Linked DNA regions of Homo sapiens: region 2 is linked to region 1. Evidence: fine-mapped expression QTL. A gene starts in region 1. The other region holds a variant in brackets. All regions are shown on one strand. Distances are between the middles of the regions. Region 1 holds the start of KIAA0232. Region 2 overlaps KIAA0232.

Region 1 (2,500 bases):
TGAACAGTAAGTCAAAGTATCCAACCCAGGTAATTATTAGCAAGAACTACATTTATATAATTTTTTCCAAAGAATCTCGCATGCCTCCTCTCCGCTGAATCTCCCTCCTGTTTTTAACTGGGTTAAATCTTTATAGCTTGCCTATAGAGGACAAAAACGGAAAGGTGGCAAAAAAGAAATCAAGACAGTTCTGCCATGATTTAGGGGTCTGTACCAAGAGTTCGGCAGGTCCTGTCACCTGCGCACCACAAGACGCAAGCTGAATTCTAGGGCAAGACGAAGCATTCCAACACGACACACACTGGTTTCTCCAGCGGGAAGAAGCAGAGAGCTCTAGAAATGCCGGCTGCAGACGCGTATTGTTGGAAAGGAGCCGGATCAGGCCCCGCAGCAACTCGGGGCGCCCTCGCGACAGGGTTTGCCGCGCAGCGCACGGATGACTGTGGGCCTGTCACTCCTAGCTCCAGCTGTAACCTTCGCCAAACCTTGCGCCGCACCGGCCCCGCCCGCCAGGCCCGCCCCCCGCGCCGCGCCCCGCGCCATAGGCCGGCGCGCCAGTCGCTCAGCCGGCCTCCCGGCCCCGCCCGCCTGCGGCCCTCCTCCCCCGCCCGGCGGTTTTCCCTTCCCGGGGCCCCAAAAGGACAATGCTGGAGGGGAGGGGAACGGAGGGAACGCGAGCGAGCGGCCCAGGCTGCCGGCCTGACCCCGCTGCCGGGGACGCCGGGCGCCTCCCACCGGCCGAAGCCTTCCTCCCGCGCCCACTTTCGGGGCTCTACGTCCTATCAAGTCTAAGCACCCCCGCCTCGTCTCCCCTAGAAGAGCCGCCCCGGCGCGGCGACACCTGCCCCAGGCAGGAGGCAGCCAACGGCAACCCATTGTGCGGACTCATCGTCCACAGCCCACCCGGGCGCAAGAGCCGCAAGCTGGTGTCCCGGCGTCCTGGGGTCGGGGCGGGGGTCCCAGGGCCCACAGCTCACCCGCACGCCCGGGCACCACCAGGATCGGGGCCGGTCAGGCCTCCCTCGGCTGGCCCCGGAGCCATCAACAGCGGCCCGGTCTCCCTTAGGCTGGCCCCGGAGCCATCAGCGGCGGCCCGGCCTCCCTCAGGCTGGCCCCGGAGCCCCCGGCGGCGGCCCGGTCTCCCTCAGGCTGGCCCCGGAGCCCTCGGCGGCGGCTCGGCCTCCCTTAGGCTGGCCCCAGAGCCCACGGCGGCGGCCCTGTCTCCCTTGGGCTGACCCCGAAGCCTTCGGCTGCGGCCCGGCCTCCCTCGGGCTGGCCCCGGAGCCCCACGGCGGCGAGCGTCCGGCCTCCCCGGCCCGCGCCCACCCGGCCGAGGGGCTGCTCCGCGCCCTCCCTCCCCGCCGCCTGCCCGCAGTACCTGCCGAGGCTGCCGGGCGGCGCGGCGGCCGGCGGGGGCGCCTCTCCTCTGGCTCCGAGGGGCTGCGGGCGGCTGCCGAGCGCCGGGCGGCCCTGGCCTGCGCCTTACGTAAAGCGGCGGCGGCGGCCCCAGCGCCACTCCGCGGAGGGCGGGAGGCGGCGCGCCGGGAGCCGCTCCGCTCCGTTACCCGGCAACTGGCCTCAGCGCCCCGCCAACCAGGGGCGCGCTCCATATCCTTCCGCCCGGGTGCCGGGATTACATCAGCGCCGGCCGGTCCCCGCCCCTGCCCCTCCCTCCGGCTGGGCTGCGGGCGCGCGCGGGCGGTGGGCCGCGGGCTGACGGCGCGAGGGGACAGGCCGGGGCTGGTGCCTGGCGGGTGGGGGTCTAGGGCCCGGGACGCGCCGTGCAGCTTGGCCGGGGCGGCGGAAGCCGCTGGGAGGTGAGAGGGCAAGCAGTAGAGAGGGCAGGCAGGAAGCGGGAGCCCCCCAGCGTGCTGGGCGTCGGAGAGGAGACGTCTCCCGCGGAGGGGCACGTGGGACTGCCCTCGGCAGAAGCCCCCGAACTCTGCCGCCGCGCCCCGCCCCCGGCCCGCGCTGGGGAAGTGGGGCTCGGCGTGCACGGCCCCGCCCGCGGCCCGGTGCAGCCCCCGCCTTCCCGGGCTCGCGCGCCACCTGTCCGCGCCCCCTCCTCGCCGCGTCCTGGGATGGCTGGAGTAGGCGGCTTAAAATAAAGACTTTAATTTTTTGTTGTTGTTGTTAAGGAACCCAGAAGACAAGCTAAAGAAATGTGACATGGCTCTTTTTTTATTAACTAGGCAAAAATAAATTCTGGAAGCTTCGAAAGTGGAAACCAAAAATGTGCATTAACCTTTTAATCAAAGTGTCTTCACAGCCACCTACCTTCCCTAAATGTGACTCCTAGGCCTGTTCTAAAAAAGCAAATAAGTATCATGGACCTGGAAAAGGAAGGGAGATTACTTAGAAGAAAGAGGTCCAATGGGAGGAGTGACTTACCTGGGGTCATTTGTTCATTTATGCAGCACCCACTAGGTGCCAGGCACTATGCTTTTCTGTTCAGAACCTGTTGGAGAATTTCCTGCACCAGCTCACGGGCTTGTGGGAG
Region 2 (3,015 bases), 100 kb before region 1:
CATACATGTTTACAGATGTCCATAGAAACGTTATTCAGATACTGAATAAACAACCAAAAAAACATTGTTTTATCAATGAGGAACCTGTTAAATCTACATAATACAGCTATAAAAATAATTATGTAGTTCTATAATTACCGACATGAAGACATCTGAGTAAAAACCTATTTCTGATGTTATAGAAGAACAAGTATAGTACACTCTTGAATGTAAATTTCTCTGTGTATGCATTCATATATACTGTACATTCAGAATCCTGGAAAGGGGCTTGCACAGATGTTACCAGTGTATGTCTCAGAGTGACAGAAGGACATATGAGTTTTCCTTTTCCCTTATACTTCTTTAAAAACACACTGATTTTTTTTGCACAATGAATATCAATCATATTAACATATAAAGATTTAATTTTTTCCCCAGAAGAAAACAAAAAGATTGAGCTTTGTGTACCATCCACGGACAAAAATGCTATGTGTTTTGCAGACTCAGGTAGTAGTCCCTGCGTGTGCTGGGGGTGAGATGGGGAGGAGCCGCTGATTTCTCAGCAGGCCACACCACTTTCTTCCCTAGCAAAGCTGCACAATGTTTTCAGCAGTGTCTGCAATGAGAGCTAAATGACCTCCATCTAGAACAAATGTAACCTGGGCACTTGCTCTTCCACGGATGCTCATGAGTAAAAGGAAGCTGGAGTTCTTTACAAAAGAAGCTTTGCTATGAGAAATAAAAACAACAAACTGTTTTTTACAATTTTTATTTGGTGTTAACTCCACAAGAAAACAAACAAAAAAAAATCAGTTACTCTGGTGTACGTGAAATCAGAACAATACAACCACGGGAAAAACAATCTCAGCCCAGGAATGGAAACTGGTACTTCAGTGCTATGGAAATGCAATGCGCTTCATACCACAGTGCGTTTCAGCGTTTGCCAACTTTTTAAAAATGCTTTTTCTTTGTGATCATCCATTCACAAAACTAAAAAGCCACACTTTCATCTCTGTTGCTGAAAGCCTCTGAGCTTCAGCTACTTAACTATGAAAACAAATAAATACATAATTTGTGAATCCCTTTGCTCACTTCGAATCCGTCCCATTCACCTGTGGAAGGTGCTGCATCTTCTCACCTGTGTCTGAGGAAGTGTGCACCTTTGCCACCTGGAGCCCTTTCCTAATAAACAGCAGCTGTCCAAAATCAACTGTGCTCAAGGTTGTGTCTGAAATCTATTTATTTGGTCTTTGCTACACAAGCAACGATTTCTAGAATAATCGTCACTGTAGTGATATGAGGAATTTACAACTTTCAATCCTTTTTTACTTTTGCTGTTAAATTATATTTCAGTGCAGATGCTTATCAATTTTTAGGAAGCTCCAGAAGAATGAAAAATACATAAAAACGTATCTGAAGTTCGTAAATAAATAACAGCAACATAAAACCTTACACATGCGCGCGCGCACGCGCGCACACACACACACACACACAC[ACC/C]CACCCACCTTAAAGTGTCAAAAAATGTGTTGTATAAAAATAAACCCTAACACGTGGGAAGATCGACCCGGCGGGCACACCAGGTCCCTCTCGGTGAGGACACACAGACCCTCAATGACTCCACAGTCTTTGATGGTACTTTCTTTTCTGTGTTATCAATTAAGAAAAAGGCAACAAAACCCAAATGTTCAAAGCAAATCATAGATTTCACAGCCAGTTCAGCTCCCAGCTAATAAATTATATGTGTGTTTACTGCCTGCCCAAATGAGTGGTGAAGCTGTCTAGAGCGCATCAGACTTTTCTGCCATTCCTGATGCTCCAGGCATGCTACGCTGATTTCACAGATTAGGTTTTTTTTGTTTTTGTTTTTTAAACAATGAGTTGGTTAAAAAAGAAAAACAATGTAAAAAATGTAAAATGTTTCGGCTGTGCACATACTGCTCCTCCTGGCCTCTGCCTGTGGCACAATGCCATGAGAGCCGGAGGAGCGGATCGCCATGCACAGACGCGACTCACAAGATGCGCCGGCTCCCCGGGCTCACCAAGGAGAAACGGGAGCCAGTCCCACGGAGCGACAGTCAGCAAAACCACCACACAGGGATGTGGAAAACTCATGACTCTACCCGCCCCAACCCACCACACACAGAACTTGCCCAGAACATTCTCTCAAACACAAAATGAGATCGAAGCTATACTACATCACAGCCAAGAAGCGGCTAGCTGCAGCAGCCAAAGATTTCTCTGGGTGATGAGGTGGCCTTTACTGCATGTCAAATGTTCACAATTTCAAGTTTTGGGGGTTTCAATTCAACATAGGTCACCAGAAAGTAACAATCTGTAACTAAGGTCCTTAGCACGTATGGAACACTCACCACAAAGAACCCTGCATGGGGTTTTGGTGTAAATGTAACTGCAGTATGAGAGCAGGTAAGGGGTGGGGTATGCACCCTTACCCCACTGTGTCTCGCATACGACCCCACACCCCAAATCCTTGGCTTCTTCAGTTAGCAAGAAAGTCACGAACCATAGTATCTTCCGTGATACTTTAGGGGAAAAGAAATCCTAAGAGAGAAAACACAGTATTTGGTGAGTCTTGAAAAGCACACCTCTGCGGTTCCTACTGGAAATGTACATGAGATTTTGCTGAATGGAGACCACCGCTGAGTCACCCAGGCTTCCCTCTCGCCTTCAGAAAGGCATCAAGCCACTGTAGGGTAAGAATGGATATCCCAGTTCTTGGAGAACAAAGCCTAAATGCTCCAAAGCTGAAGTCTCTGAAGAGCAGAAGTGGTTGTTGACACTGCAATGCTAGTAAGGTCATAGTGATATAACCGCAGTCGGAAGGAAAATTAACTGCAGTTAAGATGCAAAAAGCAGTGATACTTCTAAGACAAGCACATGCACACCCATTCTTGATTTGACAACACAATCTAGTCTATTTCAAATAGCCAAGAATTTAACAGCTGGGAAAAAAAATCTTTAACAGGATAGCTGTCCTCAACTCTAAAATAAGCAAGAAGAGAAAGATAATTATTACCA

What was found.
Region 2: its variant is fine-mapped to the expression of KIAA0232 in whole blood (INTERVAL, PIP 0.98).

What each region holds. Positions count from the first base shown.
Region 1 is chr4:6,781,720-6,784,219 of GRCh38, reverse strand. KIAA0232 reads right to left here and starts at 1,493. Exons shown (of 10, transcript NM_014743.3): 1 at 1,379-1,493. RefSeq lists silencers at 404-1,173, 1,234-2,113.
Region 2 is chr4:6,881,087-6,884,101 of GRCh38, reverse strand. KIAA0232 reads right to left here. Exons shown (of 10, transcript NM_014743.3): 10 at 1-3,015. Among named protein-coding and RNA genes, the nearest start is that of TBC1D14, 27 kb to the left of the region's middle. The variant ACC/C (reference allele first, on the strand shown) is at 1,475.